Linked DNA regions of Homo sapiens: region 2 is linked to region 1. The links come from fine-mapping of genetic effects on gene expression. Tissue or cell type: tibial nerve. Region 1 holds a variant in brackets; the other region holds the start of a gene. All regions are shown on one strand. Distances are from middle to middle.

Evidence for each region. PIP is the estimated chance that this variant, and not a neighbour inherited with it, causes the effect.
Region 2: it holds the start of COL27A1, and the variant in region 1 is fine-mapped to the expression of COL27A1 in tibial nerve (GTEx, PIP above 0.99).

What each region holds. Positions count from the first base shown.
Region 1 is chr9:114,113,464-114,121,565 of GRCh38, reverse strand. No RefSeq gene overlaps it. Among named protein-coding and RNA genes, the nearest start is that of KIF12, 18 kb to the right of the region's middle. RefSeq lists enhancers at 1,603-1,897, 7,657-8,102. The variant T/C (reference allele first, on the strand shown) is at 3,815.
Region 2 is chr9:114,150,737-114,158,838 of GRCh38, reverse strand. COL27A1 (collagen type XXVII alpha 1 chain) reads right to left here and starts at 3,302. Exons shown (of 61, transcript NM_032888.4): 1 at 2,827-3,302. The coding sequence starts at 2,888. It overlaps LOC105376225 (a long non-coding RNA gene), which reads left to right and starts at 4,571. Exons shown (of 5, transcript XR_930256.3): 1 at 4,571-5,744; 2 at 5,842-5,999; 3 at 6,152-6,246. RefSeq lists silencers at 2,136-2,430, 3,318-3,437 and an enhancer at 4,974-5,495.

The sequences.
Region 1 (8,102 bases):
GTTTTTTTGCCCCTGCTTTGGATTTAAGATCTTCCTTTCTCTGAAGCCACAGAGTCAACACATATTTTTACTAGGAGGCATAGTAGGCAGGGCACCCAGAGCCCAGAGCCCTGCCTTAAGAGGATTTATTATCTTTTTCAGGAGACGGGAGGGAGCACAGATGTGAAACCATAAAAATGATCAATGTGGCCAATGCTTACGTGGGACTTGGTGTGCACCAGGCACAGCTCTGATCTAAGGGATGTCCATGTATTAACTCATTTAATCCTCACAACAACCTATAAAGTATTGTCAACCTCATTTTGTAGATGAGGAAACTGAGGACACTTAAGATTGAGTAACTTCTTCTTGACCACACAGCTACGAAGTTGCAGAGTTGGGTCTCAGACTCCCAGGCAGCCTGGTTCTTGAGTCTACTCAACCAAAGAAGACACTCATATGGCAAGTGTTAATCCCTCTGTATCAGGCACCATCCTCAGTATTGGGGACCCAGTGGTGGAAAGAATAGACCAGGGCTCTGTCCTCAAGGGACTTGTCATCCTTCTTTCGCTCACTTATTCATCTACATAGCCACCCATCCACCATCCATCCATCCATCCATCCATTTACCCATCTATCCATCATCCATTCATTTATTTATCTGCCTATCCATCATTTAACCATCTATCCATCTATCTATCCACCCATCTATTCATCAACCTATCCATTATCCATCTACCATCCATCATCCATCCATCCATCAACCCATCCATCCATCATCTATCTATCCAGCCAGCCAGCCATCTACCCATCATCCATTCATCTATCCATTCACCCATCCATTCATCATCCATCTATCTATCCATCTACCCACCCATAATCTGACCAGCATCCACCCATCCACCCATCCATCAACCACCCATCTGTGTCGATTTTTATTCATTATGTATCTCCCATGCTTGGCATAGTGCCTGGACATAACAAGTCCTCAATCAATATTTGCTAAAGGAATGAAGGAATGAAGACAGACTTGGGCCCCGCCCCAGAGCACTGGGTTCTTGTCCCTTACCCTTTCCCAGTCACAGCACCATAAGGTAGTAAATGCTGCCATGACCACCTTATGGGATTCTTGGGAGGCTTTAACGGCAAGTAGGTGAATGCCTTACAAACTGTAAAGGGCTCTAGGGGCATAGTCAGCATCAGGCTACTGAGCTGGTGTGCAGGCACTGAGACCTGCAGAGCTGTGTCTCTCTCCAGTCTGGCTGGTGAGACCTGTCAGACACTTCCCCTCGACCTGCCAAGAGGCCCAGAAAGGAAAGGAAATTGACATTTAATGAGCATCCATGAAGTGCCAGGGACCTTCACATACTTTAACCCTCTCTTCTCTTTTCTTGTACAAATCAAAGAAATGGAAGCCCAGAGAGGTCCACGATTTGCTCAAGGTCACATAGCCAGAGAAGAGCAGAGCCCACATTCTAACCTCGGTCTGTGAGCCCCAAAGCCTGTGCTCATGGCCCTACCTATGCTACACCACTTCTTCTTAAAGGGGATGCTGTCAACTTTTCCCTAAGTCCCCACTGTTCAGGGTCACTCAGCAAGCTCTTGGTAGAGTCTTTTAAAACACGTTTCCATTTAGTTTTTGCATAGATTATTTCCTTTTTGTTTTATGGGACACCCCCCGACCCTCCCCACCCCCCCACCCCCACCCAGCCACCAACTTTTATTTGCAAAGAAAAGCCAGTGTAAATATTCCCTCCCACCCAGGTTAACCCTTGTCTGACAGAGGTGTATTCTGTGCAGCTCTCTGGGGGAAAGGATGAAAGGTCACCCGGGCTTGCCTGGGCTTCCTGCAGGGCCTGTTTGACAGACCCTCGTGATAGTTCACACACACATGTATCTCTGCCGCCTAATGCCATGGGTGGCAGAAACCCCTGATTCTCAATTTACCAGCTTCTTATGACCCTCAGCACAGACCAGCCTTCTAGGGTCCAAGTGTAAAGGAGACAGTCTTCCTGGAGTCTCTACCCTTGCACTGTGGGCTGGAACAGAAAAAGAAGTGCCCTCAGCCACTGTTCCTGGGCCACCCACCGAGGGCCTGGCATAGCACTGGGCACTTCACCAACATCCTCTCACTGAGTCTTCTGGAAAGGAGGGCTTGGTCTCAATGACCCCATTTTACAAATGGTGAAGCTGAGGCTCAGAGAGGCAAAGTCACCTGTCCAAGACCACACAGCTGGCCAGGGGAAAACTAAGCATAAGACACGGTCCTTGCTTATAAGTTGCTTTAAGTCCAGGGCTAAAAGTAAGACACTGTACATGTGAAATGACAAGACAGCCCCTCAGGCCAGGCACTATCTTCAGTGCCGGGAACAATGACCCAACAGGAAACTGGTTGAAGCAAGTCCCAGTTCTGCTACACACTTGCTGAGTGACCTTGAGCTGGTCACTTTCCTTCTCTGAGTCAAACATCTCAGTCTCTTATGCTCTTTCTTATGTAGCATCTGGTAAGAATGTATAAAGTAGGACCTCGTAAGGGCGTGGGAGAAGATGGCTGAGGTTTGTGGAATAGCACAGCATTATGGCTAAGAATTACTACAAAGCCCTCCTCCTACCATATAGAGATCCCCTCCACCAACATCCCAAGAGGCAAATCCCCAGGCAGGAGAGTTAAGGTAGACTGGGTTGGGGGGCTAAGCAGAGGATCTGCAAGCCCTGTGCCAGGCACCAAGGGGAGGAAGGAATGGCACGGGGCATTCCACACCGGTGGACAGGAATTCTCTCTAAGTCGGAACTCCAGCGGCTCCTCACCAGCCCCTCTTCCCAGGCAGCCTTCACCACAAGACCCAGCACCTCCAGTGTCCCCAGCCACAGCCCCCCACAGCACAGGCTCCTCCTGGAGTTGGCTCCAGCTCCAGCAGGCCAGCCATTGAAGGCTCCACCTCACCCCTTTAAATTCTATTTTTTCAAACCACATTCTTGAACTTGGCAGATAACGTGGCAGCCCGACAAGAGCCCTATTTACTCGGAGAGCCGTGAATGGGCCCTTTATAACAAGCTTCATTAATATTTCTACCTATTGGCCAGCTCTCCGTTTCCTCCCCCTATACAAACAGATTCTCCACACAGAAAGACTTTTCAAATGCTCTTGTTGACTTTCCCCAAACAGGGAGGGCAGCTGAGCCGGCAGGGGTGTGTGAGTGTGTGTAAGTGTGTGTGCAGGGGAGGGGGCGGCCGTGGGCTTGCGCCCGCCAAGCCTTATGCAGGAAGGAAAGAGGCCCACTATTCATGGGCAGGGACGGGCAGCTCGGGTGAGTCCAGGTATGCCATGCCTCACAAAGGCATACTCAGCCCAGCCTGCCCCACGAATTCCAGAGCCCTGGCCCGCGGAGGTAGGCCGTCCCTTCTCAGCTCCTGCTGCCTGACCAGTGACCCGAGGCAAGTCCCTGACTTGCTCTAGGCTTCACTGTCTTCTTTTGTCAGTTGAGTCTCTACCTTGCTACTCAAAGTGTGGTCCATGCACCAGTGGTATCACCATCCCCCGAGAGCTTAGGAGAAACATAGAACCTCTACCCAGATTTGTTGTCCCTGAATTTGCATCCTAGTAAGATCCCTGGGTGACTTGTGTGCACTATCGACTTCAAGAAGCATCTGATCCACTCCACATGCCTCCTCCATCACCCCCCTGCCACCACCACTCTAGGGCCCAAAGGCCACAGTGGACCTGACACATCATCGAGAAGGCGGCCACCAAGGCTCTTTTGCTCTCTAGTTCGACACCACAGCCCTGGCCCATGGTTGGGGCTCAGAAAATCAATGAATAAACAGAAAAGTGTAT[T/C]GTCCAAGTCCACAGCCTTGTGCTAACGACAGCAATTCTTCCTCTTCAGCATTTGAGAACATTGTGAAGAACTGCCCGTTCCATTGTTCTGAAGGTCGTAGAGTCTTGGAAGGGACTTTCTAATATTGCAGTGGATGGGGTGAGCTCCCTGTCTTTTGGAGATATGCAAGCAGAGGCGGGAGGACGTGTGATGGGAAGTTGGAGGAGACACCATGCCCCATGTATAAAGAACGTGCCTTTGGGGCAGAGAAAAAAAATCACTGCAGGGAAGATGGTGTCCTCACTGAGCACACCCACAGGTGAAATGGGGGCCTCTTTAGAGACGGACAGACCCGAGTTTCAATGTTGGTGATGCCTTCTTTAACAATGAGAACATGGACAAGGTGGACAAGAGCCTTCACTTCCCTTCCATCTATTCATTCAATAAATGTTGATTCTATGTGTCAAGCCCTCTGCTGGACCTTGGGGACCTGATAGTTCATAAAATAGATTCTTTATTCCTATGGGGAGAGAGACAAACAAAAATCAATAAAAAATAAATATGGGCAGGGCGCGATGGCTCACACCTGTAATCCCAGAACTTTGGGAGGCCGAGGAGAGGGGATCACAAGGTCAAGAGATCGAGACCATCCTGGCCAACATGGTGAAACCCCATCTCTACTAAAAATACAAAAATTAGCTGGGCGTGGTGGCACGTGTCTGTAATCCCAGCTACTCGGGAGGCTGAGGTAGGAGAATCACTTGATCCCGGGAAGCGGAGGTTTCAGTGAGCTGAGATCACGCCACTGCACTCCTGCCTGGTGACAGAGCAAGATGACTCCATCTCAATAAATAAATAAATAAATAAATAAATAAATAAATAAATAAGAATGCTGAGGAGAAAGTAGAGGAGGGTGACAGAGACAAGGTGTGTGCATGGGAGGTGGGGAAAATTATGAGTGAGGGGAGCTAGGGAAGATGCCACTGAAAGGTGACCTTTTACAGTCAGACCTGAAGACAAAGGAGCCAGTCACGTGAGAAGCCAAAGGAAAGGTACCCCCAGCATAGGGACAGCATGTGCAAAGGTCCTGAGTTAGGAAACACTGGGCGCTTTGAAAGGGAGGCAGCGTGGTGATCGCATTCCACACACAAGTGGGAGAGGAACCGTGGGAGGCGGGAATTTCCACCTTACAGAGCTGCAGAGGATGGATGGCACCCAATCGGTGCTCAGAGCAGGATGTGTTTGCTCTTCACTGACCCACAGGTCCTGATCAGAACTGCTGTCTGTTTCCATCTCCCGAGAACAGCAGGGGCAGTGCCTCAGCCTGGGGGCCACGGCCCAGGGCAGGGCCAAGGAGCTGCAGGGGCTGAATGAGCCGCCTGTGTGCATATTGGCTGCATACTCCTGCCTTTTTGGGGAGGGAGTGGCCTGCCCTCTCCTGGGACACCTGCCCAGCTTCAGCTGGCCTGGGTGGCTTGGACAGGAGTTCCTGACCCCCTGCCCAGTTCTCAGCAGCCAAAGGCCAGACCCTCTTGGGAGCACAGAGCCTGCCAGCCGGCTCACACCCTCCTCCCTCCTCCCTGGCCAGCCCTTAAGTACCAGGCTGGAAATAACCGGTTCTCTCCACCCCTTGGGGCCATGGGCTTGCCCACCCTAGGGGCTGAGGTGGCTGGACAGGGAGTGGCGGTGGGCTGTCCCAAGAGAGACTTCTTGGAGTCTTCGCTGGGAGGCTCCCACCCTTGGGTTAGTAGGGAGGAGTTGGTTCAATCCTGGATTTGCTGCTGCCTCTCCATGAGCCCTTCCAAAGCTGCCTTAGCATTCTGAATCTGGTTTTCCTTATCATTACAGTGGAACCGATCACCCCCTCTGAGGGCTGTTGTGAGAATTAAATAACAGATGTGTGAGCTTTGCAAACCGTGACGTACAATGCACACAGAAGACTTTGTGGTCGGGTCGGACAGTTCACTTTGTATTCGAGGTCATGAAAGGACTGAATTCTAGCATCTGGTCCCAACTTCACCTCTTAGCTAGACCACAGCGTTTCTGAAAATCTCAGTGTCCCCAACTGCAACATCAAGATCCTTGTTCCTACCTCAAAAGGTTATCATTAGAATCCAATTTATTCAAACAGTATGTGTTGAACACCTACTATGTACATTGCTCACAGCATTCTAGACATCTGTAGAGGTAGGCCCCCTTTCCTTCTTTGACTTCAAGTAATTCTTTCCAGAGGACTGAAGAGAAGACAAGGATATACTCTTGAAGGTAGACAAAGGACAAAGGAGAAAGGTTCTAGATCTCAGACTTGGTCCCTGTCGTTAGGTGGCTGGTTGAGGTCTTGGTTCAGTCTTTTACTGTCTCTATGAATTTGGGCAGGTTACTTAGCCTCTGCAAAGCTCAGTTTCCCCATCAATAAAGGAGGGAGGATATTGTGAACCAAAAATAAAATTCTAAGCCCCCTGCCCTCCAACCAGCTGGACTCCCTCCTCTGGGTCAAGGCACTCCAAAGTTCACCTGAAAGACTGGTTCAGGCCATAATGGGAAGCAGAGGTCAGACATGCCTCAGTAGCCCTCCTCCCTTTTGGGATTCAGGAAAAGCTGACCCCTATTTAACATCAACGCAGACCTGAAGTCTGATAAGGAACACTTACAATGTATTCTTTCTGAAGCCTGCTGCCTGGAGGCTTCATCTGCATGATAAAACTTTGGTCTTCACAACCTTTTATCATAACTCAGACATTCCTTTCTATTGATAATAACTCTTTTAACCAATTACCAATCAGAAATTTTTTTATTCTACCTATAAACCTGGGAGCCCCCACATGCACTCTGCTTCAAGTTGTCCCGCCTTTCTAGACTGAACCAATGTATATCTTAAATGTATTTGATTGATGTCTCATGTCTCCCTAAAATGTATAATACTAAGCTGCACTCAACCACCTTGGGCCCGTGTTCTCAGGGCCTCCTGAGTGAGGGCTGTGTCATGGGCCATGGTCACTCTTATTTGGCTCAGAATAAATCTCTTTTTAATAATAATTTTCAATTTCATAATAATTTTTAATAATAAAATAAACATTTTACAGAGTTTGACTCTTTTTGTCAATAATATTACACCACAGATGTCTGTTGCCATGGTTTAAATTGTATCAATTGACACAGGGTGCTTAGCTCAGTCTTTGGCCCATTGTGTGTGATTCATAACGTTTGCTGCTATTAGCAGTAGCTGCAAATAGTATGTAGTCATCATTACGGTAGTAGCAAAGTGGTAGTAGTATAAATAACAAGAGAAGCAATCCTGGTGGCAGTACTGCAGTAGAAATACTGGTGGTAATAGAGTAAGAAGTACTATGTTTTAGACCATTTTCATACTGCTATAAAGAGACTACCTGGGACTGGGTAATTTATAAACAAAAGAGGTTTAATTGACTCACAGTTCCTCATGTCTGGGGAGGACTCCGGATACTTATAATCATGTGGAAGGCGAAAGGGAAGCAAGCACCACCTTCACAAGATGGCAGGAGAGAGGGAGAGTGAGCAAAGGGGAAGTGCCACACTTTAAAACCATCAAATCTCATGAGAACTCACTCACTATCAGGAGAAGAGTGTGGGGGGAACTGCCCCTATTATCCAATCAGCTCCCACCAGGTCCCTCTCTTGACACATGGGGATTACAATTCAAGATGAGATTTGTCGGGGGATGCAGTAGAGGCAGTAGAAGCAATAGTAGTAGAAGTACTGGTTGTGGTGGTCATAGTAAGAAGTGCCAGCAGTAATAGTAGAAGCATTGGCAGGGTCGTAGTAAAGGACTAGAAGGACTACGAGAAGACAGTGGCAGCAATACTAGTAGAGGTCATAGTAGTAGTAGTACCAAAGTGGGCATATGTGCCAAGGGAGGGAGGCAAGACTAAGAGAATCCAGCACCCCTTTAATTCTGGGGAGAAAAGAGAGGGTCCAGTTTCTGAGAACTGGAAAAGAGAGGGGTCTAGGTAGATGGAGCTGGCAAGAAGAAATGAAGGGTACAAAGCCCTAGAAAGTGGTGCTAATCAATCCACCTAAGCCGGATAGGACTCGGTCTTGGGATTGATGAGAGTCTCATCTGGTGTTGGGGGAGGGGGTGGCTGTGTCTCCCCCCAGGGAGGCAGAGGCAGCATTTGCTCTCAGAAATCCCAGGTCCCTGGAGCAGGCAGGGCTTTTGATGCCTCTAGCCCACACTCCTCCTCATGTACCTATGACAACACTGAGGCTCTGGGTGCATGTTGCAGGGTTCTCTTGGGCAACAGAGCAAGGAATAGTGACTCCAGCTTGGGA
Region 2 (8,102 bases), 37 kb before region 1:
CAGGGACTTCCTACTTGCCAGAGACCCGAGCCCCAGCCTTCACCAGCAGGAACAGAGATGCAACCCAGGGAGCCAACGAGCCATCTAAGTCAGCTCCAGGCCTGGAAAGTTGGCTCTCAGAGGGAGGCCCTGCCGATTCTTTTGCTCCCGTTCCAATCCTGTTTAGGCTACTGCTAATCATGGTTAGTGCCTGTGCTGGCTCAGGGCTTTGTTCTTCCAGACTTCTGTTTTCACCACTTGTCTTGTGGGCCTTGTCTCTGCAAACCCAGGGCTCCAGAATGTCAGGAAGACCAGAGCACAGAGGCCAGGGAGGCCAGGAGGCAGCCGAAACGGGAGCCGCGAGGAAACATCACATGGAAACATCGTCTGGCCACACAGCCCTCCAAAGAGGAAACCCAGGTGTTTCTATGCCCTTGCAAAAGGCCCTCTGCCAGTGCACCAAATGGGGCTACTCCTGGGTAACCACACTGCCAGAACCGGCAGACTGCTTGGATAGTTTTCTTCCATCCTTATTACCTGGAAACACACAGGATCTTAGAAACCCACACCAGCTTCAACAGTCACTGAGGGCTCTGAGCTGAGACCCAGGCCACAGAAACACACAGGGAAAGTGGCCCTGTGGACACTAGGCTTGGCTGTTCACGCATGGGGTAAAAGCTGAAAAGGGAGCTAGCTGGAACTACAGCTCATCAAGTGGGGTGGACCTGTCCCACCTGCCTCCATGGACTGGCCAGACCCCCTGTGCCCAGACGGCTATGCCTGGGCTTTCTTCACAGCTTCCACGTCCTCCATGGGAACACAGACAGGTCATCGTCTGGAGAGGATGCAGCCCAGAACTTTCCCATTGACTCACACACCCATTCAACATGAAGGGAATAATACAAATACCAGCTGCCGTTTACTGAGCACTTATTACATGCCAGGCCCTGTTCTAAGCCCTTTACAAGCATGGTCCTGTTCATCTTCACAAAACCCAGCCAGCTAGGAATAAGGTGCCGGTTTTGTGGAAGAGAAAAACAAGCAGCAGAGTGGCTCACCCAAGCTGGCACAGCAGAGTTAGGATTCAAACTCGAGCCTGCCTGATGGCAAGCCTCATGGCCCTCCTGTGGTGCCGCCTGCCTCCCACCAACATGATTCTGTGAGTGTCTCACTGCTGTCCCCTACCACCAGTGGATATGTTACTCTGCGTAGCCAAGCCAGGCATGTGGGTATCAAGAGGGTCCCTGGACAGAGATGGAGGAGAGAAAATGCCAACAAAGAACAGGGGAGTGTGCTCAGAAAGGGACAGAGACCACCAGGAGGCTGCTGGCTGCTGAGGGTCCGCAGCGCTGGTGGAGGCACAGGAGAGGGAGAATGTTCTGAGTACAGGGAGGAAACAGAAGGAGGCAGAGGCCAGGGATGTGTCCATAGACATGACATGGAGTTTGGTCCGGCCAGAAGGGTCCAGGAGCAGAGGCATGCTGGAGAGCAGAGGCATGCTGGAGAGCAGAGGTATGCTGGCGCCAGAGCGCACATGATGCAGGACAACGTGATGTCAAGGGAGGCAGGGAGGCAGGAGAAGGCAGAGACTGGGCCTCCGAGCAGTGTTGACTGCCCACTTGCCCACAGCTGGAGCCCCACCATGGGGTGCTCGCCTGGCACCACTTTTCTGCCCAACTGCTGGCATCTACCCTGGCGCAGGGTCTTCTGGAGAAAATGAGTCAGCAGTGTGCTCACTGGTGCCGCGCGCGCGTATGTGTGTGTGTGTGTGTGTGTGTGTGTGTTGTGGTGAGGGGGTGCGGGGCGGGGGAATCGCAAACAGCCAGCTTTTTCCAAGACATGGGGAAGAAAGGAGGGGGTGTCATCCCGCGGACTCCAGCTCAAAGGGGGCAGGGCCCAGCTACAGCCCTAACAGCCTCTGGGGAGTGTCCTGGTGTCCTGGGGGCAGGATGGAAAGAGAGGAGCGCCGTCCACAGGCCCCAACGGGCTGCTTGCATGCTGCTGGCTCCCACACACACCCACACGCTGCGCCGGCTCCAGCACAGGCTCACTCTCTCTTACAACTCCTACTCCACACGCTGGGAATCCCAGCCTCTGGGCCCCAGCTCCGCGCAGCCGCTCCTGGGAGAGTCCCTGCCCCTCTCCGGCCCTGTCTCCCGATCTGTACACTGAGGGGTTCCGCACAGTGATCGCCCAGGGCCCTTTCTGCTCTGACATGCTGGCTCTCACTTTTTCTCTCTTACACACGTGAAAGGGACAGGAACCGAGAAGCAGGAAACACAGACACACAGACCCAGGCCGACTAACACAAACACGCGGAGATTTCCAGAAACGCGGGGACGTGCAGAGCCACACAGACACGGAGACAGGAGCAGAACCCGAGACCTGGTGACCTAGAAACTTGCGGACAATTTCACAAGAACAGATAGAAACGGAGACGTACAGGCTTGGGACCTGCAGACACTGAGACACCGGAACACACCGAGACGGCCCCAAACGGAGACCCCCCTCCTCCCCCAAGCATCCAAAAAGCCCCCCTCCGCACCCCGCCGGCCGCTCCAGGCGCCACCACCCACCCCCACCCCCGACCCCCGGGCTGGCTCTGCCCCCGCCCCAACGGGATCGGGCAGCCGGGCCAGGCGCGGCAGGGCGGGCAGCGTTCGCCAACTCTCGCCCGGCCGGGGGCGCAGCCCCTATTAACCCTTGGCGTCCCGCCTCGCGGGGGCGCAGGAAGGGGCAGGAAGCTGACGTTCCGCTGGAAGCGACCGCATGGCGGGGAACCCCGGCCCTCCCCGAGATTGGAGCAGCAGGAAGCTAGGGAGGGGGCGTCCCCGAGTTCGTACTCACCCCCCGCGCGCCGCCGCCGCCGCCGCTGTGCCTCGGGCCCCCCGCGCCGATCCCGCTCCCATGGCAGGCCCCTACTTCATGCTCCCGAGCCCGGGGGGCAAGTGTGGGCGCGCCCCATGGGGCCGCCAGCCCCCCGCCCCGCCGCGCCAGGCCGGCTTAGAGCGCGCGGCCCCCGCGCCCCCAGCGCAGCCCCGCGCCCAGGGGCGCCCGAGCAGGCAGGCAGCGCGGCTGGGGCCCCGCGGGCGCCCGCGCCAGGCCCATGGTCCCAGGAGTCCGGGCGCCGCGCTCGCCCCTGCCTCGGTCCTTTTCTGCTTCCACCAAAAAGGAAGAAGAAGCAAGAAAAAGAGAGAGAGAGATGATCAAACTTTTGGAGGCGGGCTGCTGGCGGTCCCCGGAGGCAGAGCAAGGCCGGGTGAGGGCGCGCGGAGGGCGGTGGAAGCTGCCTCCCCGCCGGCCTGGGGGAGGAGAGGAAAAGGAAGGATTTGGGGGAAATGAAGGCGATTTAAAGTCTCGGCCCGCGGTGGCTCTCCACCTTCCCTCCTCCCCGCTCCCGGCCGCCCTCTGCTGCCCCCTGCTGCCCCCTGCCGGCCGGAGCCAAGGGTACAGCCTCAGCTGGCCCACTACAGCCCCGATGGGACACCCGCCCCCCTCCTCCTTGTATAGATGGGGAAACAGATTCACAGAGAGGAAGGGGCTGCCCAGGGCTTCACGGTGATTTGATCACCGTTCTGAGATTAGGAACTTCTGACTGGTGAGGCTGGGGGTCCTCCAATGGGGGGTTGGGGTAGGGGAGAAGGGCCAAATTCTACTCCTGGAAGAAACCCACAGTTTCAGGGACGGAGCTAGGACCAGAACTTGGTGTCCAGACGCCCACGACAACCAGTATCGTGATCCCCACCGCCCACCAAAAGTTTGCGCTCCCAGACTCGGAGCGCCCTGGAGAACATATAGGGTGGGCTTGTTAAGGGTTTGCCACCCTCTCTCTCCCTTCTGTCAGCAATTGGAATCTAACCGCACCCCACCACCACCACTAACCACGCACCTCCCCAGAATCGACAAAAACTCCCTCGGATCCCATCCGGGAGCTAAGAGCTGCACACCTTGGCCCCCGGGCAAATTCTCACACCCAAAACTCCAGTCCAGCCCTGGGACCACAGCTCCCTCCGCCTCTACCACCTCTTGCCACTCGTTCACGAGCAAAGTTACACTTATTCACCGGTGCACACACACACTCCCACACGTATCCACCCTTTCCCCAAACTCAGACACACGCTCACACACGGTCCCATTCTGGGACAGCCACGCACCCTTCCTAGGTTCACACGAAACGCATCCTCAGATATCTGGGCTCAGGCGCACGCTGATACTCTACACTCGCAGAAGCATGCACACGGATGCTTACACAGGCACAAATGCACGCTATCCTGGCCATATCGCCCCCACACATGTACACACCCCGGGTGGACACACGCGCGCACACCCTCACTTGCACACAGTTCTCCGAGAGTGCCCACCGCACATGTGCACACACGCATTCACTCCTCACGCGTGTACCCACCTCCCCATACGCGCACACCTTTAGGCGCGCGCACACACAGGCATATAACACTTCGCACCGCTCCAGGAGCCCCCAAGCACTTACTGGGTCCCTACGTGCGAGGCTGGCCGGTCGGTCCTTCCTCCGGCGCCTAACGGCATTTGTATTCATGGGTCCCCGCAGCCGTGGGCGCGGGGGCGGGGGGCGAGGTCCCCTTCCCTAAACGGGGCGCGGGCGCGCGGAGCGCAGCGGCACCGGGAGGGGCATGGGCGCGCGGGACTGCGCCGCCGACCCGGTCCGCCTGCGCTCGAACTTCGGCAGCTCTGCGTCCACGGGCTCCGGCGCGGGCTCCGAGAGCTGGGGGCGGCTCATAGGTGCTGGGGCGGCGGCGCCCGCCGGGCCTTTTGAAGTCTCCGCTGGGGGCGGGGAGGGGGCGCTGAAGGCGGCCTTTTAAACCCTGGCTGCACGCGGGCTCGGTCGAGCAAGGTGTCTGGTTTCAACAAACTTTAGGAAAAGTCCCAAGCCGAGAGAGGGGAGGTAGGGGGGTTGGGGGAGCTGCATAGCTGTGCGCTGCTTCCTGCAGAGGGCAGAGCACCCATGGCTGCCAGGAGGGAGGCCAGTCGCGGGACTGGGGAACTGGCAGGCTGCTGGCCGGCGCGTGGAACCACCCCCGCCACCCCCGCACCCCCAATGTTGAACCAGAGTTCTTAACTTCCATGTGCACGAACCCCAGGGAGTGCAGGAACACCCCCAAACTGTGCACAAATTGAGCATGTTTGTGCATTCTTCAGGGGAGAGGGGCCGTGGGCTTTCCTCCGGTTTTCAGAAGTCCACGGCCCCCTAAGGTTGAGAACTCCCTCTTCAATCATAACTGATGTTTTTTTAGTTGCATACTTGGTACCATGCAGACCCTGTCTTTATTTACATTTTAGATATTTTGTTCATTGTGGGGTTTTGCATTAATTTTGATACTTTTAAAAATATTTTAAAAGTAAAAAATTAAAATATTATTTTGATTACTTAGGGGTTTGGGGCACTGCTTTGGGCAATTTACCTCCGTTGCTGAGTTTTCTTGGCATCTCCTGGTATGCTGCATCTCTGCATGTGCCACACCCTAGTCCAGACCCTGACCCACACAGTGCTGGGGTTTAAGGGAGGCCTGCTTTTTTCTCTCCATTTACAGATGGGAAAGCTGACATAAACGGGTAGGTGGTAGAGGTGGGATTTGAACCCAGGTAACCTAACTCCAAACTTCTGCATCTTGTCATAAGGATCCAAATCTTAGGCTTTAAGGGGTTCTGTGCAGATCCTCAGCAGCCTCCCCAGCTTCAGATCCGGCCTCCTGAGCTCCAGTCTCTCTGATACCTGCACCCAGGCTCAGGTAAGCTTGACTACTTCGATGCTTTCTCCATACTGTTTCCTCCCAGGTTCTCCCTCTGCCCCTTTTCTGCCTGTTCACAACCTGGTTATTCTTCTAGGTGCAGGCCAGAGCTCACCTGACTCTGGTGAGCTGCTCTGCCCTACACCGGGATTGCAGCACACATCACATGGCGCTGTCATTGTCAGATCCATCTCTGTGTCCCCACACCCAGCCTGACACATGGAGCCTGGGATACAATAGATGCTCAAACCGTTGGTAATTTAAATAAGTTATTTGTTTTAACTCCTACAGTATGCAAACCCCTGTACAAGACTCTGGGGGAAAAGGGTCTGCCACTGTGGGGGCAGGGACAAAAATTTCCATATGGTCCTGCCTTCTGGTCATGCACGCATTTGTAATGTGGACAGGAGACACGCACAGCAACTTGGGGTAGGGAAGAGAGTCTGGATGGGAGACATCAGACATCACTATGTCATGGAGAACCCCCTGCAACTGCATAAAGGTAAGATAATATAAGGAGAATGTGATAAATGCCACCAAAGAGATGCAGATCAATTGAATTGTGAAGCTGATTAAGGGATGGAAAGAAACCGAGGAAGGCCCCCAGGAGGAGGTGGCATTTGGATCTTAAAGGGTGTGTTGGATAAATGTGCAGCCACAGAGGAGAAGGACATCTCCGGTGAAAGAGTCACAAAAAGACCAAGAGGACAGAGTTGGATTTCAGGCAGGTTTTGAAGGAGGATTGAGGCGGTGGGGCCCAGTGAGAAACTGGGGAAACTGTCCAGTTCTCCCCACTGTATTGTGTGGGTGATACCACACGACTCACTGTCCACAAAGCCATTTCCAGGCAAGGGACTGCATTTCCTGAAAGGTCAGGCAGGCAGCAGGTCAGTGGCTAAGCACCAAGGCCTTTCCAAATTTCACTCACAAATGTGAATAGGCAAGGCTTAGTGCCAGGGAATGCTGCCTGCTTCACCCAGGTCAGCCCAAAAGACCCGTGAGAATGCTATGAGAACCCAAAAGGATTGAGGACATCCCCTCTCAGAGCCTCACTCTGCCCATCTGTAAAATAGGTGCATCAAACGTGATGATCTGTGTGGGCCCTTTGAGCTTGGAGGCATGAGACTGTCCTTCAACAAGAAATCCAATTATGTATGTGAATATTGAGGGCTAACTGCATTTTGCTAGGTCGGGAGGGAAATGAGGCTCATGGCCTTCCAGGAGCTCATGGGCAGCTGAGAAGAGGAGGCAGGGACACTGGGGAGAATTCCAAGGAAGGGCCTTGTATCCTGCCTCTGCCGTCTCCCCACAAGCAGTCTTCCTGCCAGGCAGGTTCTTGGCGCAGAGCCAGTGACTGGGCATGAACTGTTCTGATGGACGTTGAATCTGGAAGACACCAAGCCATTACCCACCCTTCAAAGGGGACAGCACACTCACCAAACAGCCCTAAGGGGCCCATTTCTATGGGGCAGAAGGCAGTAAGCCTGGGAACCAGGTGGGCAGGGGCTGCCAGGCCTCTGTAGATGCCTCAGGATGAGAATTCCTGGCCTGGTGGGGACTTTCAGGGAACACATAGTTTGTTCCCTGCTCAAGCAGCTCAGCCATGGACCCATCGGTCTCTGTGGCACATCTGCCTTAGGAGAAGCTGTTGGTTGCAATAGCTTTAATGTTGGGCACACAGTAGATGCTCACAAAATATTTATGAATGAACCACTAGATGAAGTGTTTGTTTTGTTTTGTTTTGTTTTGTTTTTTGGTAGAGACAGGGTCTCACTTTGTTGCCCAGGCTGGTCTTGAACTCCTGGGCTCCAGCAATACTGCCACCTTGGCCTCCCAAAGTACTGGGATTACAGGCATGAGCCACTGCACCTGGCCCTAGAGGAAGTCTTAACCTGCAGGACAGAGGTTGCATACTGCCCCAAGTATCAATCCACGTCCGTTTACCCACCAAGCTGCTTCTGAAGACCCACTGTGCACCAGGCTGGGTTTTCTGCTCTAGAAGCGCTATGGTCTGAGGAAGGAGGCCAGCAAAGAGAAAGACAGATAAAAAATGCAGGTCAGGAAGTCCTGCCTCAAATCAAGCCTGTTTAAGTGGTACTGCAGGGCTTGGAGGAGAACCAGATTCCTCCCACTAGGAGAAGAGCTAGAGTCTGCCAGTCTTTCCAATACCCTGCACTGCTGTGGGCATACCAGGCTGGGTCTTTCTTTCATTTGGCGGCCCCACCCTGCGTGTAGCAAAGGATACGCACACAATACATGTCTAACCATGGAGTCATTCTTTCCCTGGTAGGGAGATGCTGTCACGCATCAGGCCCTGAGCTGGCCACTGGCAAATACAAGCTGTGGTCCCTGCTGGAC